Homo sapiens: one gene and its partners. The protein of the gene in region 2 purifies or fractionates together with the protein of the main gene of each other region. This does not show direct contact. Each region holds a gene or a part of one and is shown on either strand. Other genes may lie near its edges.

Region 1 (11,127 bases), on a different chromosome or scaffold from region 2:
CTTATACTATTCTTACTCGTCTGTAACTTTCTTTTCTTTTTTTATCTATTCTAGGTATAATATCCTTGCACATGTACGTTTGTGCAACTGTGATTATGGCATAGGGTAAATTCCTTAAAGTGGAATTTATTAGATCAAATGGTATAAGCATTTTGAATTTGAAAGATATTTGCTAGATTATACTCAAGTATAGTCTAAGGGATTTGGAAAAAAACAGATAATGTGTCAATGCACACACTTTGTGCAACTGTATGGGAACAGCCTAGAATTGCTGGGTCACTGCAGACACATAAAATTTCAAAGATACTGACAAACTGCCCTTTACAAAAATTAAAACAATAGACATACCTATCAACTGTTAGAGAGAGCTGATTTTTTTCTAAGACCTTTAATGTTAAGGTTTGCAAGACTCTTAATCACTACAGCTTTAATTTGTATATGAGTGTGATTAAGTATCACTCATGATGATTGGTCATTGTATTTCTTTATCTGTTAACTACCTTGACCATTTTTCTATCAGTTTGTTAATCTCTTAAAAGATCTTTAATATGTTTCAAATATTTTCCTTAGTGTATTATTTATCTTCTGACTTTATTTAAAGTATTTTTAAAATGACAACTATTTTATGTTAAATTTAGGAACATTTTCTTTTACAGTATCTGCATATTGTTTTCTAAATTTTAGATTGCACTTTATAGCTATTAACATCTCACTACTTACCAAGAATTAATCCCATGACAAATGTTTTAAAGTGAACTGGGTCATAGATCCATACATACACCTAGAAGAATCAAGAAACCTCGGTGCTTAAAAGTTCTAATGTCACATTAGAAAGTAATGCTTAATTCTATATTTTAGGTCCCTTAAAGCAGTCATCAACCTCTTAACATACGAGAAGTAATTTCTAAGGTAAATAAATTCCAAAGATCTTTCCTTCAGTAGTAGTGGTTCTTCTGGCGCTAGAAAATGATTATAGGATAACTATAAATTCTATAAAGCACTTAAGTAAATTTGTATGTTCTTACATACACTTAAAAATTTGTTTGACTGGGCTTGGTGGCTCACGCCTATAATCCCAGCACTTTGGAGGCCAAGGCGGGCAGATCACTTGAGGTCAGGAGTTCAAGACAAGCCTGGCCAACATGGTGAAACCCTGCCTCTACTAAAAATACAAAAATTAGCCAGGTGTGGTGGTGGACGCTTGTAATCCCAGCTACTCGGGAGGCTGAGGCAGGAGAATTGCTTGAACCCAGGAGGCAGAGGTTGCAGTTAGCTGAGATCACACCACTGCACTCCAGCATGGGCGACAGAGCAAGACTCTGTCTTGGGGGAAAAAAAAATTGTTCCATGTGTGCACATCATTATTTATTCAACCAAAACACCAGCAACTGCCAACCTTTTTGTCCCTAATGTAATGATGAACCAGTCTGGGATAAAAGCGCAGTTAAGACAGATTCCAGCCAGGCCCTATTACAGATCTAGTATCACTCAACTCCACACTTTTCTCTCCTGAGAAGACACAAAGATCAATTATTAAAGATCATGCTTGGTGAACATAGTCTCTATGACTGTATTAATTTCATTGCCTACTCCTCCATGGAGGGCCCATAAGCTGGGAACCACTACTTCAAAACTTAATTTACTTTTATCAGGCTCTTATTTTACACAACAGAAATTTACTTCATTCAGATCAGAACTCTGTTTGATCATTCATCCATAAAACTCAGTTTTATTTCTTAGTTTCTATAAATAACAGTACTCTTCCCTCTTATTTCTATATTGACCAGAACTCTTTATTGTCTTTCCAACGTGGTTCTTCAATTTTTAACACCAGAGGTTCCACTTTAACCTCTTATTTTACTCTGCCCATTTCCTTGGGAATCAGATTCACAGATATTACTTCTGCCAGTTTCCATTCTAAAAAAACATGTTTTTTTAAAAAAGATATTTCACAACTTTAAAAGTTATGGAGTGCATGCTGCTTTCTACAGAATAAAATCTAGGCTTCTCAGGATACCAAGCACCCATGCGTTTGCTCAGGCTGTTTCCTTCCCTAACAGACCTAACCTCCTTCCTGGCACGCCTGGCAATCTGCCAGTCATCTTCAAGTCTAAGCTCAAATGTCCTTTAGACCCTTCTTATCCTTCCTGACTAAATTAACTATTCCTACCTGGTGCTTTCACACCATTAATGCTTACCACACTGTACTATATTAACATGTTTAAGTGCCTGTATCTTTGCTAGACCATTAAGAGATTTTATCCTACTTATCAAGCTATTCCCAACGCCTATAAAAATAAAAATTTCTATTACAGTGGTTCTCAACAAGGGGTTCACATCAGTCACCTGAGGACACTTTATTATAGATATATAATCCTCCCCCACAATCCCACTCTAGATAGTCTCATGCAAGTAAGAATTTCAAACACACAACCCTAGGAGCCATGACTTTATAGATGTTACTATTGTATAGGTATAACAGGAAAGGATATATCCTGAAATTCACAACAGTTCAATGCCCAGTATATAACTCATGTTTACGTACTGGTGAAGTGACTGAATTAAGCAGTCTTTATGGAAGGCTACCACCATACAAATCTTCCATTACAAATGATAAGCATAAAGCATCAAGAAATGTTAAAAATTTTAAGCCCCTCAAGTGATGTGTCTGACTTACATTCTGTAAGAGATAGAGACTTGTAGCTATCTCCTATTCTGCTCTTTTTTCTTTGATAATAATGGAAACCCTACATTTCGGCTGGGCAAATAATCATCCTGTATAAAAAGTGCATTTCCAAGATTTTACTTCTCATATGCATGACCATGTGACTATGTTCTGGCCAATGGAATTCAAGCAGAAATGAAATTACCAGCTTTCTGGACAGTGTCCTTAAACTGGTCTCCTTAAAGAGGAGACATATTCTTCACTCTCCTTTCCTCTTTTCGATGCAGATATAAGATTGGCAGTCATTCTGGACCATAAGGTAACCTTAGCTAGAAGCCTCAGACAGAGGAGAAAAGAAGAGCTGGGATCCACCATGGAGCTGACGTATCTGTACAGCTTACCTACAGATTTCACTGATAAAAAAGAAATAAGCATCTATTTTGTATTAAGATGCTTTTATTTCAGGTTTCCTATCACTCACAGTCAAATCTGACTTTTAAAAATCTAAATAAGAGAAATTATTGATTTTTAAAAATGGAGTAGCTTTTATACATTTAAGAGCATAATTAGATTTCTCAAAATTTTTCCTTTTATTAGTGAAGGCATCAAACATCTTTCTAAAAACTCCTATAGAAAACTGAACTTCTAGTTATAGGCTTACTCTCACCTCATTTCCATCCAGAAAAACCTGATCATCATGTGGCTCAAGTTTGAATTTTTTCTTAGTTTCCTTCTTTTTAGGAGTTCCTGGAGTTTCCTCCTATGAAAACACAAGTTGGACAGAAGAAATAACACAAGTAAGCAAGAAATATGATGTTCATACAGTCAAAAAACTTTCACTGACTATTTGTAACACAGAAATAAAAATTCTCAACCACGGTATTTATAACAACTCTAATATAGTTATCTCAGGTAGGTGTTGCATAATACTTAAATGTGCTCATAGGCCAGTAGTGTTCATGTGCACATAATGATTTTTAAATTTTTACTTAATTTTAGATTAACTCACCTTTTTGGATTCTTCCTTTTCACCATCTTTTTTTTTCTCTTTTTCTTTTTTTGTCTTCTCATCCTTTATATTTTCTTTCTTGCTCTTTTTATCTTCTTCTTTTCCACTTTCAGCTTTTCCTTTATCTTTTTCTTTCTTTATGTCTTTATCATATTTCATTTTCATTACTTTTAGGGCTCGGTGAAAAAACTGCTTCTTTAAAAGCCTTTGGGAAAAACAGGTATGGCATTACACTCCCCATATAGATAGAGACTGAAAAGCAAAAATATCAAGACCTGAATAAAATAAGCAAAGGAAGGCATAAATTAGCAACACAAGAGAAATTACAACTAGTATGCCCGTGAAAAAGTAGTCAACTCTACCACTAAATCAAAACACTTTACAGTCAATTATATAAAAGTTGTCAAAACTCAGTGATATTCAATATAATTTTCACTTTTAATGATGTACCTTAAGTATAAAAGAGATTATAGGTTTGAGATTATCCATATAAAGACTCTTTCTGGGTTCATATAATCAAGACTCAGCTTCACTTTATGTTAAGTCTCAAATGCAAGAGCTGACGTAATAAAGAAAGGAGAAAATAAACAGTTTAAGAAATGTTAACAGATTAAAAGTGATGATTTGATGGGTCCAAATAATGTCTTTTCAGCTTTCTTGGTGTTATTTTTTCTCCAAGTACTTCGCAATTCAGTGTGCCACTGTAATGATTATCTTCAATTAAGCAATGATTAAATATACTAAGGTGAGATTTTTGGACTCTGAAAAGGACGTGCACAACATCAAATTGAAAAATGTGCAATATATTTGGCAAAACATGATGTATTCCTGGTTTCACTAATTTCTCTCTAAATAGATTGTTTTCTCTCTTTTTATCAGTTATTACTATATTTTATATTCTCACCTTAGGGCCTTCACACTGGCTGTTCCCTTTACTTAGAATGCTCTTCCCCCAAATAAGCAGGTCCTTTTGTTTCACTCCCTTCCTTCAAGTTTTCCCTCAACCACAACCTACTCTGTTTAAAACATAAGCCCACCTTCCCATTCTCTCGTTTCCTGTTACCCTATCCATAGCACTTATCTTCTAACTCACTATATAATTTGTAGTAGTTGTTTGCTCCTTCACTAGACGGTAAACTTCTTAAGAGAGAGAGAGATCCTTGCTTTATTCATTTTTTATCTGACCCCAGATTAAGTCAACGTTGCTTGGTAGTTTCTCTTTAACCTTACAATCCTACTCAAGAAATTGGGTTGCCCTTATTTTTGTCATCTAAAAGTCACTTTTTCAAATCTCATGTTCTAGTTTCAGAATTTCTGATTGGTTTCTCCATTCCTGCTTTGATAATGTCTAATTGCCACAATACAATCTAGAAGCTACGTCTCACTACCACCACTGGTGCCTGCTAATGGTGACTATCTAGCTACCTTTCTACTTACACCTCACTGGTGCCTGCTCCAGCACATCACAGCACTTGTTAACTAGATGCTTTCTTCCTGCCCAGATAACCACTTCTTTTTGTCACTGTGTTCAGTCCCCTGAAGCACCTATGTTTCTATGTTTTACCTGCCTGGCTGGGCTTCCATCTGCTCCCCAATTAGGTCCAGCCTATGAGCACTTCCACAAAGCTAATTTCTAGGTTTCCTCATTTGGCCCATACTACTTATTTGGAAGAGCTATTTTTAAATTATGTAAATATGATTGTGCATATAATTGTGCAAATGTTCAAACTGCCCCTCAAAATGCTACCATCATATCTGCTATGAATACATATACATATATAAACAAACAAGAATCTGAAATGAGACCTTAATGATTAACTACTTATGAGTACAAAGTGGGATTTAAGAATAGTAGTGGCATATTTGAATATGAAGTGTAGTCTTACATTTTTTACTCCAGAATGTCTTACAAAAAAAATCTATAATGAAAATATATTCTAATTTTCTTTGTGCACTTATATGATTTCCAGATTTTCTTTCAGGAACATTTATTTCCACTCCAAATGAAAATAAAAATACATCCTGTTCCTCATATGTTAATTGAAAAAGCAGCATTTTATAATGCAGTTAATATACATGTCCATATATTAAGAGTACATGTGTACACATACAGATACTTGAAGTATATATTCTCAAATGGTAATGTGGCTGGCTATCTACGAAGCAACATTATTAGTAATTTGGATTTTCTTCTAAATCATTTGCAACAGTTCCCATTTTCTTAAATTTACTTTAGTGGAAAAAATGATTCTTAATAAAGAATTTTAAAAACAAACAATGCAACTTTAGTAGAAAAAAGCCTTTTCCCTGATGAGTAGATACTGAAGGCAATAGAACCAGCAGGATCATCTGCTTCTGTCAATTTTCCTGCACAGCTGCCCACCCCCACGAAAGAAAAGTAGATTATTAACTTTCAATCAAATTGTGTTGAAAATAATTTCACAATTAGGTTGAAAGATGAGACTGACATTATTTAACATTTGTATAGTATCAGAGCCTCCGTTTGTTTGGCTTTAAACCCATGACATAGAACACATTACTAACATAAAACTCTCTGACATTTTTACACAACTACTCATACTTTCCTATCTCGGTGTGTTCTATGCCCTTTGCTTGGAATGAATTTCCTTTCTTCTCTTGTTTGTTGGGTAATCACCTATTTATGTTTCAAAATTTACTTAAAACATTTTCTGTGTGATGTCATTCTTCATAGTTTCACCATCTCTCTCTTCCTTATTCAACACACTGCATTGTGATTAGTTATAAATCTTCCCTAACAGATCAGAATATGTTTTGATGTAGGGACCAAGTCATAGTTATTATTGTATTCCTGGAGCCTAGACTATTTGTTGAGTAAGTGGTTTTAAAACAGCTTCTAAAACATTTAAAAAATTACTTCTGTATTTTTTTCCTTCACTTCCATTTTTTTTTCAGATTTAACAAACATTTATTAAATGCCAGACATGTTGGGGACTTCCACCAATGTGGCAAAGGTGAGTTTTTATGAAGTGCTCACACTGTGGTAATTGCTATGGAGTTACAATAAAGTATAAAACAGTCTTACAATTGTTTTCAGATTTAGCTGGCAGGAGATTTTAAAAAAACTCACACATATGTAGCAATTCTAAAATAGTTAAGGGCCAAACTGGGAGGTACTAACTTGATAAACTCAGTAGAACTTTAGATACAAAGGCTGATGAAGGCTGGAGGGCCTGGGGAAGAGTACATTCGGTAGAGGAAGGACTTGAGGGATTTGTTTGTGATTTTGAGAGGCAGGTGGGACAGAGGAAACAGAACCGTTTAGGGAAAGTGGCAAGTTATGATAGGAAAAAGACTAGAAGAAAAAATGAGTGTGGCATGTGCACAAGACTGAGGACGACATAACTGGATTGGGGGTCAGTGATACAAAGTCTTGTGGAGACTTAACCTAGTATGTATGAGTTCATTCATGATATAGGCCATAAAAAGGTATAGATCACATTAGAAAAGATTGTTTTATCATCCTACATTTTCCTATTTTGTTTTTCCTCAGACTCCCTCATGCCACTTAGCTGCCTCAGAAAAACTGACAGTATTGGAGGATGCCAAAAAAAGAAAAAAAGAAACTGGTCAAGAGACCCTTTGTGATTTTGTCTGCTATTGGGCAGCAACTCATGAGAACTGGCCAATAAGACTCTACGGTTATATTAGAAGTGGCTCTGGAGACCTTAAAGTTATGCTATTCTCATTTATTTTAGTGCAGAAAGGACTCAAACAATCTGACATCAGTGGGAAGAGCGTATACAATGAAAATCGAGTGTCTTTGGACACTCTCTGTACTCAGGTCTTTTGAGCTTTTCAAATAACAAGGTACCAAGGCTCCTAAAAAGCCAAAAAATGTGGATTCATACTGGCTGCTCTACTCAGAGATTTGGGCTTACAGATCTAATAGCTCCATTAAATGCATCGTCATTTTGTTGGAGGAGACAGTATAGAGCGGTAGTTAAGAACACAGACTGTGGAGACAGGCTGCTAGATGTAGAACCCTAGATCTGCCACTTGCTAGCTGTGTAGCCTTAGATAAAGTACTTAAGTTCTCTGTGCCCCAGTTTCTGCATTTGTAGCATCTCTTAATTTTTACACAACATGTAAAAAATACATCAGTTTTGTGGCAGGTAAGGAAGTTTGTACTTTTTGGTTTGTTTTTAAGACAGAGTCTTGCTCTGTCACCCAGGTTGGAGTGCAGTGGTGCGATCTCGGCTCACTGCAACCTCCACCTCCCGGGCTGAAGCTATTTTCATGTCTCAGTCACCCAAGTTGCTGGGACTACAGGTGCATGCCACCACGCCTGGCTAATTTTTGTATTTTTAGTAGAGATGGGGTTTCGCTATGTTGGCCAGGCTGGTCTTGAACTCCTGGCCTCATGTGATCTCCCTGCCTTGGTCTCCCAAAGTGTCAGGATTACAGGCGTGAACCACTGTGCCCAGCCTGGAAGTTTGTACCGTGGAGCTAATTCTATTCACCTTTTTATTTTTTCCCCACGAGCAGATTCAAGTTGCCCTGGATATATGCTTGCTGGAGCTAATTCTAACTAGACAAGTTGCTACAAAAGACAAGCAAATATCAACTGCATGAGTGTTAGCTCATCCTTGTCTCAACAATGTCTCACTCTGTCGCCCAGGCTGGAGTGCAGTGGCGCAACCTCGGCTCACTGCAAGCTCCGCCTCCCGGGTTCACGCCATTCTCCTGCCTCAGCCTCCCGAGTAGCTGGGACTATAGGTGCCCGCCACCACACCTGGCTAATTTTTTGTATTTTTAGTAGAGATGGGGTTTCACCTTGTTAGCCAGAATGGTCTCGATCTCCTGACCTTGTGATCCACCTGCCTCGGCCTCCCAAAGTGCTGGGATTACGGGCATGAGCCACTGTGCCTGGCCGAAACCTACTGTTTCTAAAAGGTCTGTTAGTAACCTCTAGTCTTTGGCAACTAAGAATTTTAAGAAATATTCAATAATTCTTTAACTTGACAGCTTAAGAAACCAGGTTGTGAAATAGTGGTTTTTAAGAGGGTTCTTATGTGGCTGATACTTTAGGTGCCATTAAATAAAATATTAGTACACATAAAATAATCTAAAATCCCAAAAGATAAGCTTTAGTGTTATGAAAACAAAATTTAGTTAACATATATTAAGAAAATGCTTAGTATTAAGTAAACCAAGAAAAAAAAGAAAAGAAATGGAAAGAAAAACCAGCATACTTCCTTCCAAAAGGAAGGTGATTTTGTCTTTTAGGTAAACCACTTAACATCAAAAGTTTTTTCAAAACAGAAAAAGTATCTATTATGAAAAATATATGTATATTACTGAATTAGCTGTATTTCATCTTGAAATTCTCAGAAAAAGATAAGGTAGATGTTGCAGCTTCCTTGATTTTAGAAGAAATACTACATTAGCAAACACTGAACCAAATAGGAAAGGGTATGAGGCTTATGGCTCAGGGTGCAGGCACTAAAAAAGTAGCGGTAACACAGCTAATAGGAATTCCTGCAAAAGTTTTGAAAAAAAGACTCCTCAACCAATTTGCTCTACAAAAGAAAAAACTTTCTTTTCTACTGTAGGCACTGGTATATGACTTTTGTTGCTGACCCTTCAGTAGGGCTCACAAATATATAAAATAGAACATAAATAAAAATTATATACAGTTAAAAGTATAATAGTCTAATACCAAACACATTTCCAGAGGTACCAAAGAAATCAGGTTACATGTGAAAACAGTATTTGAGTTATGTTGTAGTATCACTACATTTAATGATGTAAGGAGCTTCAGGACTATGAAGAAAATTTAAAATTATTATGTTATTCTTCACTAAGAAATAAACAGTACCTGTTGCAGTAGTCAACCACAGACTCCCTGGTTGTAAATAAAGCTTCCTCTCCTTTCTTGGCCTTTGCCCACTTTGAATCCAAAAGACAGTCCACTGCTTTTGAAGCTAAAGAAGAAATTCATTATTTTAAATTTAGCATACATGGGGATTTATGTCTATCTAAATAATATTTTATAAAGTAAAATTTCAACACTCTGGCAACAAAAAAGAAAACCAAACTCAACAGAAAACTAAATCTAACATGATCATGATTAGTAGTTCCCCAAAACCTCAACTTGTGAACTATATTAAGTATCTTTTAAAAGTAATGTTGGGAAATAATGGCATTCAGAAAGACCAACTAAAGCAAGTTAAATTAATGGGGAAATATTCAAAAATTTAAAATATCTGTATGTAACTATCACTCTTATTAATCACAAGCATATGTAGATAAACCAAAATGTTCACCACTCCCTGCAAGTAATAAAAATTCTCATCAAGTTTTACTCTAATACACTGAGGAAGAAGCTCTGTCAACAATCCACTGCTGTCACAAGAAACAGCTAAACATATTATATCTGAAGAGATTAGCACATCTACTTTTTAAAACTTGTAATGAATGTCAAATCATTAAAAACAGTAAAGAAAGAGACGATAAAGGACTTTTCCTCTACACTGGCAATTTAGTTTTTTTTTTCTTCTAAGAGACAGGTTCTTGCTCTGTCACCCAGGCTGGAGTACAGTGGTGGGATCATAGTTAACTGCAGCCTCTAACTCCTGGGCTCAAGCCATCCTCTCACTTCAGAGGCGCATGCCATCATACTCATCTAATTTTTTTGTAGAGATGGGGTCTCATTGTGTTGCATAGGCTGGTCTCGAACTCCTGGCCTCAAGCAACCCTCCTGCCTTGGCTTCCCAAAGTGTTGGTACTATAGGTGTGAGCCACGACACCCAGCTGCAATTCACTTTTAATTGATGAGAAAGGCAAACTCAACCCCTACTTATAAGCTCTGGTGTTATAAATGACATCAGCTTATAATGACATTGTTTGGGGAAAAAAAGCCAGTGCTCTTAGTTCCAAGTACGCATACTATCTAAACAAAAGGTAGTATTTTAAAACACTGAAAATAAATCCTATTTAAAAAAATTTCCAACAATTGTTATTAGAAAACATGTTATCTTTTTATTATAGACATTTTCAATCATAAAAGAAAAGAACAGAATAATCAACTGCCATATGTCCATCACCAGAACAATCACATTTGGAAAGCACTTTTAAAACTTCTACATATCCCAAATGTAGGTTAACTTCATAACATATGTACACTAATACGATTTTACTGATATAATCCTACCAATAAAATAATCAACCCGGTGACCCATCATATTGGTGGACTTTGTTGGACAGTTGAATCGAAGATACTTGGCCACAGCCTTCTCTTCTTTAGATGGTTCACCAACTTCCTGCAACATATGAATATTAATTTAGTATAATCATATACTTGAGAAATTCATGCGCTGAATAATAATTTACAAATCTATTTTATGAATCTTTTCAAGTGGAGTACAGGCCTTGCTTTCAAGCTTTCTCTGGAGCGACCTAATAAAGTATT
Region 2 (11,127 bases):
AAGCAGAGGCAACAAAAGGCAAAAATAGACAAATGGGATTACATCAAACTAAAAAGCTTCTGTACAGCAAAGGAATCAACAGAGTGAAGAGACAACCTAAAGAATGGGAGAAAATATTTGCAAAGCATATATCTGATAAGAGATTAATATAAAAGATATACAAGGGATTAAACAACTCAATTGTAAAAATACAACCTGATTTAAAAATGGGCAAAGGACCTGAATAGACATTTCTCAAAAGAAGACATACAAACATACAAATGGCCAATAAATAAGGTATATGAAAAAAATGCTCAACATCACTAATCATGAGGAAAATGCAAACCACAATGAGCTATCACCTCACACCTGTTAGGATGGCTATCATCAAAAAGACAAGAGATAACAAGTGTTGGTGAGGATGTAGAGAAAAGGAAATCTTTGTACACTGTTGGTAGGAATGTAAATTAGTAGAGCCATTATGGAAAACTGTATGGAGACTCCTCAATAAATTAAAAATAGTAGAACTAATAACATATGATTCAGCAATCACACTACTGGGTATACAGCCAAAGGATATGAAGTCAGTACATTAAAGAGGTATCTGCATTCCCGTGTTCACTGCAACTATTCACAATATCCAAGATAGAGACAACTTAAGTGTCCATCAACAGATGGATAATGAAAATGTGGTATATTACATAATGGAATACTGTTCAACCCTTAAAAAGGAAATCTTGATATTTGTGACAACATGGATTAACCTGTAGGACATTATGCTATGTAAAATAAGTCAGGCACAGAAAGACAAATACCAAATGGTCTCACTTATATGTGGAATCTAAAAAAAGTCAAATTCATAGAAACAGAGAATGGTGGTGACCAAAGGTTGTGGGGTGGGGCGGTTGGGGAAATGTTGGTCAAGGACACAAAAATTCCAGTTAGGAGGAAGAAGTTTAGGATATCTACTGTATATCATGGTGACTACAGTTAATAACAACATATTATATATTTGAAAATTGCTATAAGAGTAGGTTTTAAGTGTTCTCACCACAAAAACATGGTAAGTATGTGAGGTAATACATGTTAAATAGCTTGATTTAGCCATTCCAGAATGTATACATATATCAAAACATCATGTACGCCACAAATAAATACAATTTTGGTGTTGCTGTTTTGTTTCCTTTTTGAGACTGGGTCTCATTCTGTCACCCATGCTGGATGGAGTACAGTGGCATGATCTTGGCTCACTACAACCTCCCCCTCCCAGGTTCAAGCCATCCTCCCACCTCAGCCTCCCAAGTAGCTGGGACTACAGGCGCATACCACCACGCCCGGCTAATTTTTCTATTTTTTGTAGAGATGGGGTTTCGCCATGCTGCCCAGGCTGGTCTCAAACTCCTGAGCTCAAATGATCCACCTGCCTCGGCCTCCCAAAGTGCTGGTATTAAAGGTGTGAGCCACTGCACCCAGCCTACAATTTTTACTAGTCAATTAAAAGAATTTTAAAAATAAACTTAAATGTAAATAGTCTAACCACCCTAATTTAAAGGAAGAGACTGTCAAATTGGATTCTAAAAAATTAACAACCACCTATATGGAACCTACAAGAAACCTACTTTACATGTAAAGACTCAGCTGGGTGTGGTGGCTCACGCCTATAATCCCAGCACTTTGGAAGGCTGAGGCAGGCAGATCATTTGAGGTCAGGAGTTTGAGACCAGCCTGGACAATATGGTGAAACCCTGACTCTACTAAAAATACAAAAATTAGCCCGGTGTGATGGTTCACGCCTGTAGTCCTAGCTACTTGGGAGGCTGAGGCGAGAGAATTGCTTGAACCTGGGAGGCAGAGGTTGCAATAAGCCAAGATCACACCACTGCACTCTAGCCTGGGTGAGAGAGCGAGACTATGTCTCAAAAAAAATAAATAAATATAAATATAAAGACTCCACAATACCCTATTCCATGTGCCTCTTCCCTTGGCTGAGTTAATCTGTATCATTTTCTGTTAAAAAAATAAAAAATAAAAAAATAACCCTGAGTGGAACAGCTCTGAGTTCTGTGAATTCTCCTAGAGAACTATCAAACATGACAGTGGTCTTGGGGACCCCTGAACTCTGCAACTAGTAAGTGGCTTTTAGCAAGACTACAATATACAAGATCAATATACAAAGAAAACTATTGCATTTCTATATACTATACAAGCAATGAACAATGGCAACTTGAAATTTTGAAAGTAATACCATTTATAATGGTATCAAAAATATGAAATACTTAGGAATAAATCTGATATAAGATGTGTAAGATCTACAAAGCATTGCTGAGAGAAATTAAAGAAAACCTAAACAAATTGGAGAGATACACCAATGTTTATGGATCAATGCAATCCCAGTCAAAATCTCATCGGGTGTCTGGCAGAAACTGGCAGCAACCTAATTCTAAAATTCATATGGAGGAGTGTATAAAAACAAGATAAAATTCAGATGGAAATGCTAAATACCTAGAATACTCAAAATAGCTTTGATGAAAAACAAAATTTCAAGACTTGCATTACCTAAGTTACAGTAATCAAAACAGCATGATAATGGCACCTAGATCAATTTGGCAGTACAAAGAGCTCAAAAACATATAGTCAACTGATTTTCAACATAGGTGTAAAGACAATTCAGTGGAGAAAAAGACAGTCTTTTTTTTACAAATGTGGGGACAACTAGATACCCATACGCAAAAAAAACTTGGATTCCTACCTTATACTATATACAAAAAGTAAATCAAAATGGATCACAGAACTAAATATAAAATCCGAACCTATATACAATCTAGAAAAAGCGAGAGAAAATCTTGGTGACCCTGGATTAGGCAAATATTCTCAGACATGACACCAAAAGCTGGAGCTACAAAAGAGCTGCACTTCAAGATTAAGAACTTCTGCTCTTTGAAAGGTACAGTTCAGATAATGAAAAGCTACAGAGAAGTAATATATTTGCAAATCACATATCTAAGACTTCTATCCAGAATATTTAAAGAACTCTCACGATTCAGCAGTGAAAGAAAACCAACAACCCAATAAAAATATGTGGAAAAAGATTTGAACAAATAAGTCATCAAAGATATATGAATGGCAAAAAATAAGCCCGTGAAAATGCTCAACATCATTAGTCATTAGAGAAACGCAAATTCAAACCACAATGAGATACAACTTCATACCCACTAAGATGTTCGTAATCAAAAAGATAATACCAAGTGTTAGTAAGGATGCAGAGGAACTGGAACCCTCACACATTGCTGGTGGAGATGTAAGATGGTACAGGCACTTTAAAAACTGGCAGGTACTTGTAAATTTAGAACATTCACTTACTACGTGACTCAGCCATACTATTCCTAGATATTTACCCAAAAGAAATGAAAGCATATGTTCATACAAAGACTTGTACACTTGTATACAAACTTGAAGTTTTATCTGTAACAGCTAAAAAGTGAAAAAAAAACTCAAATGTCCATCAAAGGTGGATGGAGAAACAGATTGTGGTACATCCATACAATGGAGTACTACTTAGCAATAAAAAGGAATGAACTGTTGATAAACAGAAAAGCACAGATTATCTCAAAATTATTATGGTGAAGGCTGATGCAGGAGAACTGCTTGAACCCAGGAGGCGGTGAGCCAAGATCGTGCCACTGCACTCCAGTCTGGGCAACAGAGCAAGACTCCGTCTCAAAACAAAAAAATATATTATTATGGTGAATAAGAGAAGCCAGACAAAAAAGAATATATACTATGTAATTCCACTTCTAAAAAGAATCTAGAAAACATAATCTATAGTAATAGAAAGCAGATCAGTGGCGGGAGGATGGCATGAAGGAAAGAGCGTGGAATTACAAAGAGGTACAAAGCAGCTTTTGAAGTGATAGGTATGTTCATTATCTTGACTGTGGTGATGGTTTTATGGGCATGTACATATGTAAAAATGTATCAAATTTTATACTTTAAATATGTGCAACTTATAATATACCTATTTATTAAATTTAAAAACTAAGAGATAAAGAAAATAGCCAAGATGTTCCTAAAGAACAAGATAGCAGACACACACATATGCATGCGCACACACACTCACATAAAGCAGCGGGGAAAGGGATAGCTTTCACAATAAATTAAGTTGGGACAAATGGGTATTCCACATGGGGAAGAAAAGAAGGAATCTACCACATACTGAGCACAATAACAATTCCAGGTGGATAATAAATCTAAATGTGAAAGGTCAAATAATAAAAGTTCTGAAACATGGGGTAGGCAAAGATTACTTAAATAAGCCACAAAAATCACTAACCATTAAGGTTAAGATTGATAAAATTGACTATATTAAAAATAAGATCTTCAGTTCATCAAAAGATACCATAAAACGAAAAGATAACCACAGAATGAGTGAAAATATCTATAATACACACAACTAACAAAGGACTGAGAATATTCAGAATATATAAAGAACTCTTACAGCTTAACAAGGGAAAGAATGACAACTTCAGAGGAAAAAAACTAGAGTGGAACTGAAAGAGGAGATCCAAATGGTCAACAAACATACGTAAAAGTCGATCAATGTCACTCCTACTCAGGGAAATGTAAATGAAGCCACCATGAAATACTACTACCTAACTACCAGACTGGTAAAATTTTTATAGTCTGGATTTAACTTGATTACCTCGCTAAGGAAAAATTAACTAATTTTTTAAAAATTTAATAGCCTGGCAAAATCAAGTGCCACCATGTAGAACAACAGGTTCATTTGGTCCTTGCTGGGACTGTAAACTGTTAAAAACAGTTTTGGAAGGTGGTTTGACATTATTTAGTGAAGCTGAAGATACCTATACCCATTACCTAGCAATTTCTAGGTACAGACCCTACAGAAATGTATGCACATATACACTGGGAAATCTAATACTCATATAAGCATAGTATTAGCCAAAAATGGAAACAACTCCAATATCAGTCATCAACTGGATATACTGTGGTATATTCACATAATGGAACTCAAAATACAAGTGAAAGTGAAGAAACTACAACTATACACAATGTAGTTGAATATATGAAACATCAGGTTGAGCGAAAAAAGCAAGACTCAAAAGAATACATACTGATTGCATTTACTTTAAGGTGGAAAGCAGGTAAACCACAGTATGTTATTTAGTGACATAACTGGTGTTAAAACTACAAAGAAAAGCAATGAAATAACTGCTTAATAACCTCTCGAGTTTCTAGGGCGCTAGCCACGTTTTTTTTAACCTTAGCAGTTGTTACATAGGTGTTCACTCCAAGTATTTGCTAAAATGTACACCTGTTAAATGTGCTGTTCTATATTTGCTATATGGTGCTATAAAATTTTTCAAATGTAAAGAGTCTATGAGATTAATGGATTCAATATTCACCTATGAAATTTGCTATTACTTTTTGAATTTATTACAAATGAAACCATAAGCTGTGTCACATTAAGTTATCATCTGACATAGCTAATAAGTAGTTAGCTCCTTATTCTACCAGTTACCAGCTATGTGGCCTTGGGCAAACTAACCTTTCTGAGCCTCAGTTTCTATAAAATGAGGATAGAAAATAACAGTACTAATTCCAGAGTTGTGAGAAGGAAATGAGATATCTATGTAAATACTTCAAACAGAACCTGGCATATAGGAAACAATCATTATGTGTAACCATTAAATGGTACTTTAAGATGATGTTTAGATACATGCTCCACATTAAGTGACCAATTTCACAGAAGCCAATGTGTTTTCACTGGTTAAAGGAGATGATGGTACCTATAACTGCAATACTAAATCATGCACAAAAGACAGTGGACATCTTTCACATCACTTACCATCCAGTGACACCTCCAATGAACAGCTGGGTTGCCACGCTATACTTTTCTGCTGAAGGTCCAGATTCCTGCCCGAACAGCTTACGCCACCATGGCTGCTTCTTAGCAAATTCCGCAAGGTCCAGTGACTCAAAATTTCCCTCAAAGTTTCCTACAAGAAGTAATACGTTAAATAAGAAAATATTTACTTTTATACCTAACTAGATTGAGATATTTAAAGAAACAGACATAAATGTAATAAGAAACCTCCAAATATTCTATTTTAAATAGTAAATTTATTCTAAGTTGCAATTTTGGAAAATCAGACTAAAATCAGCAAATACTAATGTCTATATTACAGGGAAAAACCTAGAAAATCTCAAATTAGTCCTCTAGTTTGTCCTCTCAAATTTAAAAATAACAAAAAAGGCTGGGCGCGGTGGCTCACGCCTGTAATCCCAGCACTTTGGGAGGCCGAGGTGGGCGAATCACCTGAGGTCAGGAGATCGAAACCAGTCTGGCCAAAATGGCAAAACCCCATCTCTACTACAAATACAAAAATTAGCCAGGCGTGGTGGCAGGCACCTGTAATCCCAGCTACTCAGGAGGCTAAGGCAAAAGAATTGCTTGAACCCAGGAAGCAAAGGTTGCAGTGAGCCGAGATAGTGCCGCTGCACTCCAGCCTGGGCAACAGAGCAAGACTCCATCTCAAATAAATAAATAAATCCAAAAAGACCTATAAAAAACTGCCAGTAATGCATCCCAAATGAAACAAATTTGCCCCTTCTCTTCAGAAGTAGCTCAATGCTATTCAGTAATCCACAAATTTTCTAAGTACTACGTGGATCTCCAGTGATAATGAAGATGAGAGGGTAATGTTTAATTGAGCTCTTACTATTTACCAGGCAATGTGCTAAACATTAATCATGTACATCTAATTAATCCACAGAATAAGGTAGGTACTACTTATTAACTCAATTTTATAATTAAGAAATGAAGGCCAGGCATGGTGGCTCACACCTGTAATCCCAGCACTTTGGGAGGCCGGAGGCAGGTGGATCACCTGAGGTCGGGAGTTCAAGACCAACCTGACCAGCATGGAAAAACCCCATCTCTACTAAAAATACAAAATTAGCCGGGGGTGGTGGCACATGCCTGTAATCCTAGCTACTCGGGAGGAGAATCACTTGAACCTGAGGGGCAGAGGTTGCGGTGAGCCAAGATCGCACCACTGCACTCTAGCCTGCGCAACAAGAATGAGACTCCATCTCAAAAAAAAAAAAAAAAAAAAAAAGAAGGCACCAGGCGTGGTGGCTCACGCCTGTAATCCCAACACCTTGGGAGGCCAAGGTGGGCAGATCACCTGAGGTCAGGAGTTTGAGGCCAGCCTGGCCAACATGGTGAAACCTCGTCTCTACTAAAACTACAAAAATTAGCTGGGCATGGTGGCATGCGCCTGTAATCACAGCTACTTGGGAGGCTGAGGCAGGAGAATCACTGGAACCGGGGAGGTGGAGGTGGCAGTGAGCCGAGATCGCGCCACTTCACTCCAGCCTGGGCAACAAGAGTGAAACTCCGTCTCAGAAAAAAAAAAAAAATGAAATGAAGGTTCCAAAGTTAAATGATTTGCCCAAGCATGGAGAAAGACTTAACAAAATGTCAATCCCTTTCTCTGTGGGAAGATAATGTCAGGCTCCCCTACTATACCCAGCCCTGTTTCCCTGGAAACACACCGCACTAAGAAATGTCTGATATGAAATGTCAGCAATGTACTATTCAAAGCTGTTTACTGTAAAATTGACCTCAAATGATCAACTTCATCTGGCATGGAGTGTGTACAATCTTTTCACACATAATGTAACAAACAATAGAAAATGACTACTACCCATGCAAAGGCAAAGCCATATAAAGGAAACAAAATTTGTTTAAATAAAAGAAATAGAAGCAGGCCAGGCACGGTGGCTCACGCCTGTATCCCAGCACTTTGGAAAGCCTGGGGGACGGATCACTTGAAGTCTGGAGTTCAAGACCAGCCTGGCCAACATGGTGAAACCCTGTTTCTACTAAAAATACAAAAATTAGCTGGGCGTGGTGGCATGTGCCTGTAGTCCCAGCTACTCGGGAGGCTGGGACAGGAAAATCACTTGAACGCGGGTAGCGAAGGTTGCAGTGAGCCAAGGATCGCACCACTGCACTCCAGCATGGGTGACACAGCGAGACTCAGTCCCAAAAAGAAAAAAGAAAAAGAAACAGAAACAGAAACAGAACCAGTGATGATCAAGATGCTGAAGTAAGCAAATAACAATGATCAAAAACTGCTCAAAAGATTAAACATATATGTAATTGGAGTTCCAGAAGATTAGAAAGAATGGGATAGAAGTAATATTCAAAGAGGTACACAAAAGTTATTCAGGCCGACAAGAAATGATGCCACATGGAAATATGGAAATGCAGAAAGGAATGAGACACTGGAATGGGCAAATAGGTGGATAAATCTAAATGAATACTTACTGTAAAAAAATAATAATTACAGAAATTTTATACTTTAAAATCAAAGAAAAAAATCAGAATAAAAAGTAGAAAATAGGGGCTGGGCGTGGTGGCTCATGCCTATAATCCAAGCACTTTGGGAGGCCGAGGCGGGTGGATCACCTGAGGTCAGGAGTTCGAGACCAGCCTGGCCAACATGGTAAAACCCCGTCTCTACTAAAAATACCAAAAATTAGCCGGGCATAGTGGCAGGCGCCTGTAATCCCAGCTACTCAGGAGGCTGAGATGGGAGAATTGCTTGAACCTGGGAGGCGGAGGTTGCAGTGAGCCGAGATCAGACCACTGCCCATTTTCCTGGGCAACAAGAGCGAAACTCCATCTCAAAAAAAAAAAAAAAAAAAGTAGAAAATAGGAATAGAAAGGGATTTCTTCAATCTGATATAGGACATCTATGAAAAATATACAACTAACATCATACTTAATGGTGAAATATGGAACACTTTTCTTTCCCTAAAATCTATTCAACTGTTTTTTGTTTTGTTTTGAGACAGGGTCTCACTCTATCACCCACATTGGAGTGCAGTGGCACTATCACAGATTACTGCAACTTCAAACTTCTGGGCTCAAGCAATCCTCCCACCTCAGCCTCCCCAGTAGCTGGACTACAGCTGTGCACCACTATGACCAACTGATTTTTTTTTTTTTTTTTTTTTTTTTGTAGACAGGAGGTCTCACTTTGTTGCCTAGGCTGGTCTGGAACTCCTGGCCCCAAGTGATCCTCCCTCCTTAGCCTCCCAAAGTGCTGGGATTACAAGTGTGAGCCACCTCGCCCAGCACTGTACTGGAGTTCCTAGCCAGTGCAACAAAAGAAAAGAAATAAAAGTCAAAGAGATTAGAAAGGAGGTACAACAATAATTCTGTCTTCATTGGCAGATAATATAACGGTGTATATAGAAAACCCAGAAAAATCTACAAAAAGGTACCAGAAGCAAGGTCACACATTATAAGACCAATATTAAAAAGTCATTTGAATTTTTGTGTATTAGAAATGATGAATTGGAAAACAAAATAATTTTAATTGCAAAAATTATGTTGTAGTAAATTCAATGAAAGATGCACAAGACCTGTTCACTGTAAACTAGAAAACACTGCAAACTACAAAACACTGCCAAGAAATTGAAGATGACCTAAAATAACAGTGATATACTGTTTATGTTTTGCAAGACTCAATATTTTTAAGATGTTCATTCTCTCCATATATTGATCTATATATTCAATACAATCTCAATTAAAAAGTAGGTTTTTTCTTTTTTCTTTTTTTTTTTTTTTTTGAGATAGAGTTTTGCTCTTTTTGCCCAGGCTGGAGTGCAATGACAATCTCGGCTCACCACAACCTCCTCCTCCCAGGTTCAAGTGATTCTCCTGCCTCAGCCTCCCAAGTAGCTGGGATTACAGGCATGCACCACCACGCCTGGCTAATTTTTTGTATTTTTAGTAGAGACAGGGTTTCTCCATGTTGGTCAGGCTGATCTCAAACTCCCGACCTCAGGTGATCCGCCTGCCTCAGCCTCCCAAAGTGCTGGGATTACAGGAGTGAGCCACCACGCCCGGCAAAAAAGTAGGTTTTTATGTAATTGACAAACTGGTTCTAAAATTCATATGAAGATACAAAAAAACCCAGCAGTGTTCCAGTTACTTCGGCTGTACTACAAATTACTCCAAAACTTCATGAAGCAAAACAATCATATATTATGCTCTCAGATTTTGTGGATCAGGAATTCAGCCACAGCACTGTGGTTTGTCTTTGTTTCATGTCTGAGGCTTTAGCCAGAAGACTTACAGGCTGGGTCTGAAGACTCTACACTCACACAGATAGATAGGCTGCTACTCTATGTGAGTCAGTCTAGGCTTCCTTACAGCATAGGAGCTGAGTTCAGGAGGTGAAAGTCCCAAGAAAGGGAGAGAGCAAATGCAGTGTTAACTTCCACTGCATTCTGTAGGAACAGGCAGTCAGTCACAAACTCCCATCCAGATTCATGAAGAGGGAATATAGATCCCACCCCTGGGTGGGAGGAGTGTCAAAGTCACTAGGAAAAAGACCATAAGGAATGGAAAATATTGCTGCAATCAGGAAAATACAAACTGCCACAATAATCCTGGGGGCGGAGGCGGGCAAGGGAAAGAGGAGGGTTCAAGGAATTTCAAGGCTCATTATAAAGCTACAGTATAATATACAACTATCTTAATTTCAAGGCTTATAAAGCAATGACATTCAACACTGTCAAACTGACCCAAGGATACCCAAATATAGCAATGGAAGAGAATCCAGAATCCAGAAATAGATCCACACATATAGTCATTTGATTTTTAATAACTTAGCACCAAGGTAACTCAATGAAGGAAACAACAAATGATGTTAGAACTACTATATATTTGTGTTTCAAAAAAAACTACTCTCAACCTCTACCTTAAACCATACACAAAATATAATTCAAGAATTCATTCAGGATACATCACAGACGCCCATTTAGCAGAACAAAATATGGATGTCTGAGTACCTGGGTACTCCATGGCCTCTCAAGTAGTTAAATAATTTATTTTTCTAATGTAACAACAAAACATTACAGTTTTAACGTAATTTGACCAAGCCCCTTAGATCAACAGGTGGCTCCACTGGGGCTGCAGTGAGCTATGATTGTGCCACTGTGCTGTAGCCTGAATGACAGATCTAGTCCCTAAAAAAGGGAGTAGGGGGGAAGGTAGATTAAATGCGAGATATTTGGTCAGTCATTGGTCAAACACTGCTAAGCACT
Region 3 (11,127 bases), on a different chromosome or scaffold from region 2:
TAATTAAACAAAAACTTAAAAATTGCTTTGAGTTGGAAACTAGAACTGAAGGAGCCTACAGCAGTCCTCGGTACTCTTCCTGGTGTCCACGGATGGCATACCCATCTCTCTCTCTCTCTCTCTGTTCCCTGTTCATCAGAGCAGCAGATACACCAACACCACTCTCAAGAGTCAGTAAAAGCTCCAAATCTATAGCCCAGATGCTACATACACTTCACAGAACTTAGGTGGTCCTTACTGTTAGAGACTGTGAAAAGTGGAATCGTCTCTCTACTCGAGAATCATTAGGTAATTTGAAGATGATCTTGACACTTTCAGGGTCATCAGGGGAAGGTTCAGGGGGCAGGCATTCCAACTTCCTTTCCTTTTCCTCCTGTAAATTCTGCAGAGACACAAAGCAAAGGTGAGGCTACAGCTCAAGAAATAAATACAATGACCATGTAGCTTTATTACGCAGTCGTCAGAAGAAAAATTAATGACTAAGTATTCTAAGAAAAACCTCTCAGGAATAGTCAAAAACAACCTAAATTTAAAGTACAATTGCATCTCATGTATTCTTTATTATGTCTAGGTATTTATTTGAGAAAAAGGAGAAAGGGAGCAGGGTGCCATGGTATGTGCCTGTAGTTCCAGCTACTTCAGAGGCCACAGCAGGACTTCTTAAGCCCAAGAGTTTCAGGGTGTAGTGCTCCATGATTGCACTGGTGAATAGCCACTGCACGCCAGCCTGGGCAACACAGTGAGACCCTGTCTCTTAAAAAAAAAAAAGAAATAAAAGGAAATGACTAAAAGACACTGGTTATAGGTAAGCGGTAATACATAATCAAATAAGATAATGTATATCTCAGTCTGATTGCTAGGGAACAAAAACAACAACAAAACAAAACAAAACAAAAACAAAAAGATAATGAGTAAAATGCCAAATCAGCTAATACTGGTATTAAGAATGAATATTTAGGGCCAGGCATGGTGGCTCACGCCTGTAATCCCAACACTTTGGAAGGCCAAGACAGGCAGATCATGTGAGGTCAGGAGTTCGAGAGCAGCCTGGCCAATATGGCAAAGCCCGTCTCTTTTTTTAAATTTTTATTTAAAAAAGAATGAATATTTAAATGGTATGAAAAATTTAAATCACCCCTAATTCCAACATGTTGTAATTTTTTCTTTCCTTTTTCCTTTTTTTTTTTCCCTCTTAGTCTGTTTAAGGTGGCTATCATTTTTTCCTTTCACACTTAAGACCAAGATGGCAAAGTCTCGGCAGTTTGGGAACCACAGGGAGTAAAGCCACACGTCCATTACCTGCCGCCGTCTCTCCTCTGCCAACTTTTGCTGTTGCACCTCCTCCTCCTTCCGCCGCTTACGCTCCCGCTCCTCCCGTTTCTTTCTTTCTTTCTCCTGGTCAGCTCTGAGAGAGGCCAGGTAGGCCTCATCCTGCTGTTGTCTCAGCACTTGGGTCTGGTTTCTTTCTTCCCTGTGAATAGATCAAAAGCAAGAGAAGAAAAACAGCACTCTCACAAAGTTCTGTGTTTTCTTATATTGAAATCTTCTGTGTGTGTGTGTGTGTAAAAATGTTGATATTCTTAGCAGATGACGATTTCACACTGCCATAAGGGATTCCAAAAGCAGAGCGTGGCAGAATCTGAATAAGCCACCTTTTTTCTCAGTTTAATTTGGCAGAAAAGGAAACAGCAAGCTTTCCTCTCCTCTTTTAAAATAAAACTTTTCCCCTAATTCTAACAAATGTGACACAGTACTGTTATTATGAAGGGATCATCAATATCATATTTTACAAGTAAATACCATTTTGGGTGACTGCATTTTTGTACTGATCTCATAAAACCAAAACACACACATATATATCCATACACACATTGTAGCAGATCTGAAAATGTAGAGTTTTCAGAGTCATTCAGAGAATCACTAATCAAAGATAAAACATTATAACATTTGGCATATCTCCTATTTTCTCTCCAACAAATTTCTGTTTTCTCTTAGCCAAAATATTTAGCCAATCAAAATAGTTGAACAGATTTTATCTTTAAAAATTAAGATAAAATTTACATGCAGTGAAATGCACAGATCTTAAATGTACAATTCAATGAATTTTGATAAATGTAACCATGTAATCACCACTCCAATCAAGACAGAACATTTCAGTTACCTCGGAAAGTTTCCTGTTCTATACATTTTTTTACACAGTTAAAATAACGCTATTATTTACAGGATTTTGATCTTGCATTTTTCTTTTTTTTTGGAGACAGGGCTAGCCTGTCACCCAGGCTAGAGTGCAGTGGTGCGATCATGACTCACTGCAGCCTCAACCTCCTAGGCTAAAGCAATCCTGCCACCTCAGCTTACAGGCGTGTGCCACCACGCCTAGCTAATTTTTGTATTTTTTGTAGAGATGGGGTTTCACCATGTTGCCCGGGCTGACCTCAAACTCCTGAGTTCAAGCAATCTTCTTACCTCAGCCTCCCGAAATGCTCGGATTACAGGTATGAGCCAACATGCTCGGCCTGATTCTGCATTTTTCTAATATGTAACAAGCATGTCCCCATGTTATTAAAAACTTTCCATAAAATTTAAGTTTGTTTAACTTTCTTGAGGGCAAGTTGGCATTACAAATCAAGAGCCTTAAAATATACTTATATTGATTGTCTCACCCAGAAACTGCACTTCCAGGAATTTAAATTTTAATCTAAGGAAACCATCACAAATTGCAAAAAATTATCTCCCTATATGCTAATTATAATAGTAACAAACCGAAAATAATCTAAAAATCCAACGAGAGTGGCCTGGTTAAATTATGATGTATTTAGATAATGGAATGTTATGCAGTAATTTTTAAAATGTGGCAGAATATTTAATGATGAGGGAAAAGGCCGTGATATATTCTTACATAAAGAAGGGTTGTAAAAAAGTATTATCCCAATTTTACAAATAAATGTGTACGTATATAGGGGTGTGTGTTGTGTATAAAATTAAAAAAATTTATAACAATGTTCAAGTGGTGGTAGGTTTATCAGTGATCTTAAATTTCTTCCTTGTGCTTTTTTGTGGTTTTAGGATTTCCTATAATTAATGTACATAACTTATGTAATGGAGAGGAATTATAACCATTCCACTTTTTTTTTTACATCGAAGTTCTTTATATTATATTCAGCTATTCTAAATGCCACAATATACATTCTTGAGCACAGAGGCCTGTCTTTGTTTATTCATTCATTTATTATTTTTTAAAGACAGAGTCCTGCTCTGTCATCCAGGCTGGAGTGCAGAGGCACAATCAGAGCTCACTGCTGCCTCGAACTCCTGGCCTCAAGCAATCCTCCTGCCTCGGGCTCCCAAGGACCTGGGACTACAGGCATGTACCACCATGCCTAGCTAATTTTTTCTTATTTTTTGTAGAGATGGGGTCTCGCTTTGCTGCCCAGTCTGGATTCAAGTAATCCTCCTGCCTCAGCCTCCTAACGTGCTAGGATTTCAGGTGTTAGCCACTGCACCCAGCCCTTGTCTTTATTTTGAACATCTCTAAGAACAGATTACCTGATATAGAGTAATTTAGGTCAAAGTATGTAAATATTTTGACAATAAATGGGCAAAGCTAAAAGCTAATAGCGGCCTGATGCACAGAAGAAGTCAGGATTGGTAGAGCCCCAGAGGTCAGCCCTCCAAATTTACAACTGGTCTCTCTCTGTTCCAGAAGGGAACTCCCTTGTACCTTTCTAGGCGTTCTGACACCAGGTAAGTCTGGTTAGCATCCATGATAAATGTCAGTTGGTTAATGAGGTCATCAGGTTGAATGAGGCCTTCTAGCCGTCCCACCACAGTCATCCTTCGATCCTTCAGCATAATCATGGCCAGGAATGGATAGGTGTTCTCTCGTAAAGCCTGTGAGACTGATAAAAAGACCCAACAGATCAAGGGCAGGACTTGACGGTGAAAAAGATCAACCCTTAGACTTTCCACAATGAGTGAGAGAGAACTGTTTTAATCCTGGTTGGGGAAGACGAGAGGTATCATTTAGTCTCCGCTTTTTCCCCGCCTCCTAGTTTCTTTCTTTTCTTTTTTTGAGCCAGGGTCTCACTATGTTGCTCAGGCTGGTCTCCAGCTCCTGGGCTCAAGTGACCCTCCCACCTCAGCCTCCTGAGAAGCAGGGATTACAGGAGTGTGCCACCATGCCCAGTTCCTCCCAGTTTTGTAATCTTTTGTTTTTGTTATCAATTTGCATGCCTATCCCTAGGTGCTTGACTAGAATAGGACAGGCTTTCCTGGTGGCGGTGTGGTTGTTGTGATGATGCCAGGGAAGGCTGCAGAGTTTAAGGATAATGTCTACTTGATGGTACAAAAAGGATCTATAAAGAATCTGGCACAGTTTTTCCCTGTACAAGGGCTCAAACCTAAAAGGGCACAAGGCTGCAAGTCTCAGCCTGATGATACTGATAATAATCTCCATCATCATTTTTTTTTCTCTTGCCTAATCCTTTCCTTATCCTTTCTCCCCACGTAACTTTTCTCCACCCTTAAAAAGGTTAGTTTTTCTGTTCCAAAGAAGCTTATTAATAGAAAGTTGAGGCTGGGCTGGTAGCTCCACCTTTAATCCTAGCACTTTTGGGAGGCGGAGGTGGTTGGATCACTTGAGGTCAGGGGTTTGAGACCAGCCTGGCCAACATAATGAAACCCCATCTCTACAAAAAATACAAAAATTAGCAGGGTGTGGTGGTACGCGCCTGTAATTCCAGATAGGCGAGAGGCTGAGGCAGGAGAATCGCTTGAACCCGGGAGGTGGAGGCTGCAGTGAACTGAGATCGCACCACTGCACTCCAACCTGGGTGACAGAGTAAAACTTGGTCTCAAAAAAAAAAAAAAAAAAATTGGTGTCCAAATGACCAAGATTTTTACCATAACAGAGTTTTACCTATGTTTTCCTTATGGTGTGAAATAAGAGATTTTATAAACTTCTATTAAAAAAAAATCCTTACCTTCCTTCTATTCACAACCTCCCTTCTGCCCCCTGCAAAGCCATATTAGAATGGCAAAACGCATGCAGGAATTTGGATGTTTAAAAACAATTAGGCTTAAGATTCAGACTCTGGGATGCAGGGACAACATCTGCCACATCTTTGGTTCTCAAGACATGGCACAGTATGTGGCATGCTAATATAAACTCAAAAGTTGCTGGATAGAAGTAGCCACAAAAATGACTACATTTTTCCTCACTGGATGCCTTCGTATCTTTTACTAACCGTCTAAAAATACTTATCTCCAAAGAAGAGTTATTGTCAGCAAAGATCTGAACTTTCCAAATCCATATCAGCACTCAAGGTACTCAAACAACTGACTCACTATGCAAGGGCTCTGTTAAAATCGTTGATGAAAAGAATAAACTCTTCAGTAAAAAGCCCATTAAGATTAAAAGCAAGCTGCTAGCCAAGACTGGGTATTTCTATGAATGTGGCAGGCTTTGGCAATGCTGAATGTGAAGAACGGGCTTTAGAATCTGGCAGACCCGACTGTACGCTACAACTTGCTAATTATGGCGGGGCACAGTGGCTCACACCTGTAATCCCAGCACTTTGGGAGGCTGAGGTGGGCTGCTCACTTGAGTCCAGGAGTTTGAGGCTACATGGTGAAACCCCATCTCTACTAAAAATACAAAAAAATTAGCTGGGCGTGGTGGTGCATGCCTGTAGTTCCAGCTACTCAGGAGGCTGAGGCAGGACAATCGCTTGAACCCAGGAGGTGGAGGTTGCAGTGAGCCAAGATCGCACCACTGCACTCCAGCCTGGGCGACAGAGCAAGACTCCATCTCAAAAAAATTTTTTTAATTAATTAAATAAAAACAAAAAAAATAAAACTTGCTAATTGTGTGATCTTCAGCCAGTGGCTTGAACTCTCTGAGCCTATTTCCTAAACCATAAAGCAAAGGTAATATGACCCCCCATCTCTCAGGACTGCTGAGAGGATTAAATGAGACAATATAAAATAGCAACTAGCGTCGTATCTACCACAGAACAAACACACTTGTAATAAATGGCATGGCATGTCTTTCCAGACTATTCCAAAGATACTCCAACAATCTCAATGAGGCAGAAGAAACATAACTTACCCCTGTATCCCTCAGGTTTGTTTGTAGAGCATGCCCAGAAGAGCATCCTAGTGTTTATTAGTGAAATAACTTCAGGTGCACAGAGTGTGTTGCTGTGGAAAGGTATGAAAAGGATATGAGAACAACTTGCTGACTATAAACTGTCACCAGAAAGAGTCAGAAAAGAGAAGGAAAATAATCAATCCACTTACCGACAAAACTCATCAGAGTCCTGGTGATCATCTCCATGAAGATAAACCAAAAGAAAGCGAAGCTCCCTTTTGGCATCGTTAAGTGCCTGTGAGAAAGAGAAGGTCACTCACTATTAAGAAGACTGTGCCTTGAGCTTATATTTAAGCTAAGGGTCCTAATGGATACAGTTATGTATTTAGGAACAAAAGGAAAAATAAGGAAAAAAGGTGAGCAAGAAATCAGAAAATTCCTGAGCTCCTACCTTCACACCCCTGGCATTGTTCTCCCTATAGAAACTCCACGCTAACAAGCTTTAATGAAAAGGTTTTAGTGTTGTTAGGATTCAAACTTAACAGACACATGAGAGTAGACAGGCTTACAAACACAGGTTCCCAACAAACCACAGAAAAGTCAGCTGCACCCACAGTCTAAGGAAGATAAAAACAGGAGAATCTGACCATATGAAAGGGAGGTGAGAATTTTTCTACTTCACAGCTACAACATCCTTGTAAGTAAAAAATAACTGCGAAGACAACCCTGATCCCAGGCCACATATCGAGTAGGAATGATGGACTGTACGATCCAAAGGCATTCTAAAGAGCATAGGGTGTAAAAGACTTTCAAAGACAAGGCTAGCGCCGAAGACTCCTGTGCGTGCTCCTGCATGTGCGTGCTCCTGAGCACATTACACTGTACGACTGCTGACATGGTCAAGGGTGGTCTACCCTCAGGATCATAGCAGAGAGGGTACACAGGAGGTGCTCATCTCACTCATCTCTGTATCTCTAGCACTGAGGACATTGCCTGGCATACAGTAGGTGCTCAGTTTTTGTTGAGTGTGGTGGGAACAGCCAGCGAGGAGACTGACTATGATAAAAAGCAGATGTGGGAAAATGAAAGCAGGAAGCAAGGGTGAGCATTTTTCTTTCTCCAGATAGATTCAGGAATTCTGGAGGCTGCATAATAGAACCCCCTTTTGCCTATTGCCACAGCATTCCCATAGTTTTCCCTATTCCTGTAGTGTTAATTCTATGTATTTCTCTGGCAAACTAGAGATATACCAAACACCCACAGAACTCTAATTTTTCCTCCCCTGAATGGTGAGGTCTTGAGTCAAAGGTCTACATGGCTGAGGTTGAATGAGATGTGCTACCCTGAGTCTATGGTCTATGTCCTTATTCAATTCTGTGAGAGATCAAAGAAGATGTAGGCTTTGCCTTCAAGGGGCTTTCAGTCTGGTAGCAGAGATTAGACACGAACACAAATGATATAGGAAAGAATATAAAATTGCTATCAATTTTTAAAAGCTATGGAAGAACAAAGGGAAAGATTAGTATTCTAGATGATGAGATAGGGCAGGACAGGGCACAACAATCAGGGATAGCTGTAAGTGGGGCGTGACATAATCTAGTTGAAGGACTGGCAAGATTCCAATTAGCAAAAATGTGAGGAAGGCATTCCACGTGGATGGACCGGCAAAAGCAAAGGCACAGAGGTAGGCAAGTACAGACTATGTTCAGGGAATGAGTCAGCTGGAACTGAGGGTATGGTAAAATAAGTTATGCAGAAAAGACCTCAAAAGAAGGGCAGCATTAGATCAAAGAGGGGCCAGCTAAAAGGTTTGGTCTTTTTTATTACCCACCCCTATAAGCAGTGAAGAGCTAATTAAGGTTTTTGAGTACAAGAAGGACATGATCAGTGCTGGGCTGTGCTCTCCTTTGAGGATAGAATCATTTCGGTAAGTTGGCATCTATATGGTTTATGGCACTGACCTGGCTGTACGTTCCCTGGTAGAAGACAGGGTGTGCCCTCCCATATTTCTCTTCAAAAGAGTGCATAAATGAAACAATGTCCCCAACGGGGTCAGTGACCCGGCTGCGAGGGTCAGGCCGTATAAAACGAAGAGCAAACCTGGGGAGGAAGGAATAAATATCACATGAATCCAGCTTACTACAGTGCATATCGAGTGGGCCAATTTGTACAGATTCCTGTAACAGAGCCAGAGGCACGGCAACAAAGGGAGGTGAACAGTCTGTGAGTGGACCATCAAATCCGAGAGTAGAGTCTGGTTCAAAAGCCATAAAGCAGCAAGTGTTATTCTATTGCCTGTTCAGGAAGAATGCAAACTACTGGGATTATAAATTCCAACACTGGCCTACATAAATCCTGAGTATTTTTTGTAGAACAATTTAGGGCTAGAAGGGTTTGGAAGGGAAGACACAGTATCCAAAAAGATCATGTGTCAGGCTATGCACCCAGACTCTCTAGAATGGCACCGTCTAAGTACTGTAGCCACTAGTCAAATGTGGCTATTCTGAATTTAAATCTATTACATACAATTAAAATTCAGTTCCTTAGTAATGCTAGCCACATTTCAAGTGCTCAACAGCCACGTGTTTAATGGCTTTCATACTGAACAGCGGAGATACAGAACGTTTCTATCATCACAGAGAGTTCTACTGGACAGTGCTCTAGAACAGAGGTCATTTTCTGGTTGTCCTACTTGCCCCTCCTTCTCCTTTCTGTTTTCCTGGGATTTTAAATATTGAGTTCACAACCCCAAACTATTCAACTTACGGATAGGAACTTCAAATCTGAAGTTGCGGTTATGACTTACTTGCTCTTCAAAGGGGCAAGTACCTTTTGCTTGATGATTTATGGTTGATGGCAACCATGGAGGAAGTTATAAAACTGCTCCACAGTACCCTGGCAGATGTGGAGTACTGGCAGCTCTTGTAAAGTGAAGAATACATACCTAATGGTACCACACATCTGTTTCTAAAGGGCCTACCCTATTTGTATAGTACCATTTATTTATCCTTTGGGTTTCCAGAGAAGGCAACAGGACAGAGGATAATGTGTTACCTAACATTAAACAAGCTGGTTGGATGATACAGCTGCATTAAAATTAGTAATACATGCCGTGCATATTTTCCCTAGAAAAGCAAACAATATTCATTTACTTAAAACGTTTTCAGCACAGACAAGGTGATTAAACTGTGATACTTTTCCTTAACAAAAAGTGAGTCAATTCATTATCCCAACAAATTCCCCCTGTGTATACAATTCTACTTGGAATTTCTCCCGAGTAATCAAACCAAATTCATTGACAACAACGTTCCAGAGCGAATTAAAAGCACAAAATGTAGTAAGTTGTATACGTGGGGGAATGGTTAGAAATTCATCAGAAGACTGATGTTTTAACTACTTTCTTTGAAATTAAGCATTTTAGAATTCTCTCTTAAAGCCTTTATTTTTTTTTCCTCATTACACAATATTCCCACGATCTACACAATTTAGGACAATCAGCTTTTTTGATTTTTTAGAAAAAAACAGAGATGTCAACTTAGTTTTCATTATGATTTTAAAGATTTTTACATGTTCATTCTTAAATAAAATGGGGATGGAAAGAGTACTAAGCAATTAGTGATCATGAAGAATGTTGCTAAACCAAGAAAGCCATTAAGTAGACAGCCTCATAAAACACCAAGGGTCCAATATAAAAGGTACTATCTGACCCTTGTACTTATGCAGCTGCTGGACCCACAACTTCAGCCTCTGCTCCCTAGAGGCAGGGTAAAGGCTGTCCCATATTTGAAGGGAAGTACAGGGAACCTGTACTTCCAGGGAAGGCCCAGACTACATATCCCAGCTCCATCTGCTGGCCTGGATGCCCTTGAACATTTAAGTTCCCCATAAAGCCTAGACATGGCTCTGGACCAGATAACCCAAGCCTGACATGCTAAGAAGTTGTGCCCCACTCATTTTCTTTTCTTTTTCTTTTTTTTTTTTTTGAGACGGAGTCCCACTCTCTCACCCAGGCTGGAGTGCAGTGGTGCGATCTAGGCTCACTGCAAGCTCCGCCTCCCGGGTTCACGCCATTCTCCTGCCTCAGCCTCCTGAGTAGTTGGGACTACAGGCACCAGCCACCGCGCCCGGCTAATTTTTTGTATTTTTAGTAGAGACAGGGTTTCACCGTATTAGCCAGGATGGTCTTGATCTCCTGACGTTGTGATCCGCCCACCTCAGCCTCCCAAAGTGCTGGGATTACAGGCGTGAGCCACAGAGCCCGGCCAGTTGAGCCCCACTCATTTTCTGGCCTTGGACCCTCTGTAGCTTCCAATGATGAGCTCTTTTAATGGTACATGAAGGAAGCTAGAAGAAAGGTGAAGGTATGAAGCAAGTGGGTATATACATAAAAGGGTTCCAGTGTTTGCAACCTAGGGGCTGCCAGAGCAAAGTGAAAAGGTACCGAAGCTGCCAGGCATGGTGGCTCATGCCAGCAATCCCAGCACTTCGGGAGGCCAAGGCAGGTGGATCACTTGAGGCCGGGAGCTCAAGATCAGCCTGGCCAACAAAATGAGACTCCATCTCTACTGTCTCTACTAAAAATACAAAAATTAGCCAGGCGTGGTGGCGCATGCTTGTAATCCCAGCTATCTGGGAGGCTGAGGTATGAGAATCGCTTGAACCCAGGAGGTGAAGGTTGCAGTGAGTCGAGATGGTGGCACTGCACTCTAGCCTGGGTGACAGCGACAGAGCAAGACTCTGTTTCAAAAAAAGAAAGAAAAAGAAAGAAAAGGTGTAACAGGAGTGTCTAGGGAGGTCCAACTATTGTGGGAGGAATCAAGGGCAAACTGGGTAATCTCAGAGCAAGAGAATTTGTTGGGATTGTGAGTAGTCAGGTGGAGGAGAAGTAGTTGAGGAAGAAAGTTCTAAGGAGTGTGAAGCTAGGAGATGATAGTGGTTAGAAAGGAAAGGGTGTGGACATCAACTAGGAAGTGTAGAGGTGACAAATATGGTGGGGGGGGGAGGGGGAGACAAATAAATATAGTCAGACTGGTTTT

The links.
Region 1: the proteins of FUNDC2 (region 2) and SEC62 purify together in Homo sapiens (affinity purification with mass spectrometry; 2 studies listed by BioGRID and IntAct, with this or other methods). This does not show direct contact.
Region 3: the proteins of FUNDC2 (region 2) and FAF2 purify together in Homo sapiens (affinity purification with mass spectrometry; 3 studies listed by BioGRID and IntAct, with this or other methods). This does not show direct contact.

What each region holds. Positions count from the first base shown.
Region 1 is NC_000003.12:169,975,459-169,986,585, reverse strand, and holds part of SEC62 (translocation protein SEC62), read right to left. Parts: intron 10,979-11,127; coding exon 10,870-10,978; intron 9,641-10,869; coding exon 9,535-9,640; intron 3,880-9,534; coding exon 3,675-3,879; intron 3,426-3,674; coding exon 3,333-3,425; intron 782-3,332; coding exon 721-781; intron 1-720. UniProt on the Homo sapiens protein: Mediates post-translational transport of precursor polypeptides across endoplasmic reticulum (ER). Proposed to act as a targeting receptor for small presecretory proteins containing short and apolar signal peptides.
Region 2 is NC_000023.11:155,028,272-155,039,398, reverse strand, and holds part of FUNDC2 (FUN14 domain-containing protein 2), read right to left. Parts: intron 5,997-11,127; coding exon 5,846-5,996; intron 1-5,845. UniProt on the Homo sapiens protein: Binds directly and specifically 1,2-Diacyl-sn-glycero-3-phospho-(1'-myo-inositol-3',4',5'-bisphosphate) (PIP3) leading to the recruitment of PIP3 to mitochondria and may play a role in the regulation of the platelet activation via AKT/GSK3B/cGMP signaling pathways.
Region 3 is NC_000005.10:176,489,258-176,500,384, reverse strand, and holds part of FAF2 (FAS-associated factor 2), read right to left. Parts: intron 8,192-11,127; coding exon 8,053-8,191; intron 6,387-8,052; coding exon 6,301-6,386; intron 6,202-6,300; coding exon 6,110-6,201; intron 3,900-6,109; coding exon 3,722-3,899; intron 1,472-3,721; coding exon 1,300-1,471; intron 383-1,299; coding exon 239-382; intron 1-238. UniProt on the Homo sapiens protein: Plays an important role in endoplasmic reticulum-associated degradation (ERAD) that mediates ubiquitin-dependent degradation of misfolded endoplasmic reticulum proteins.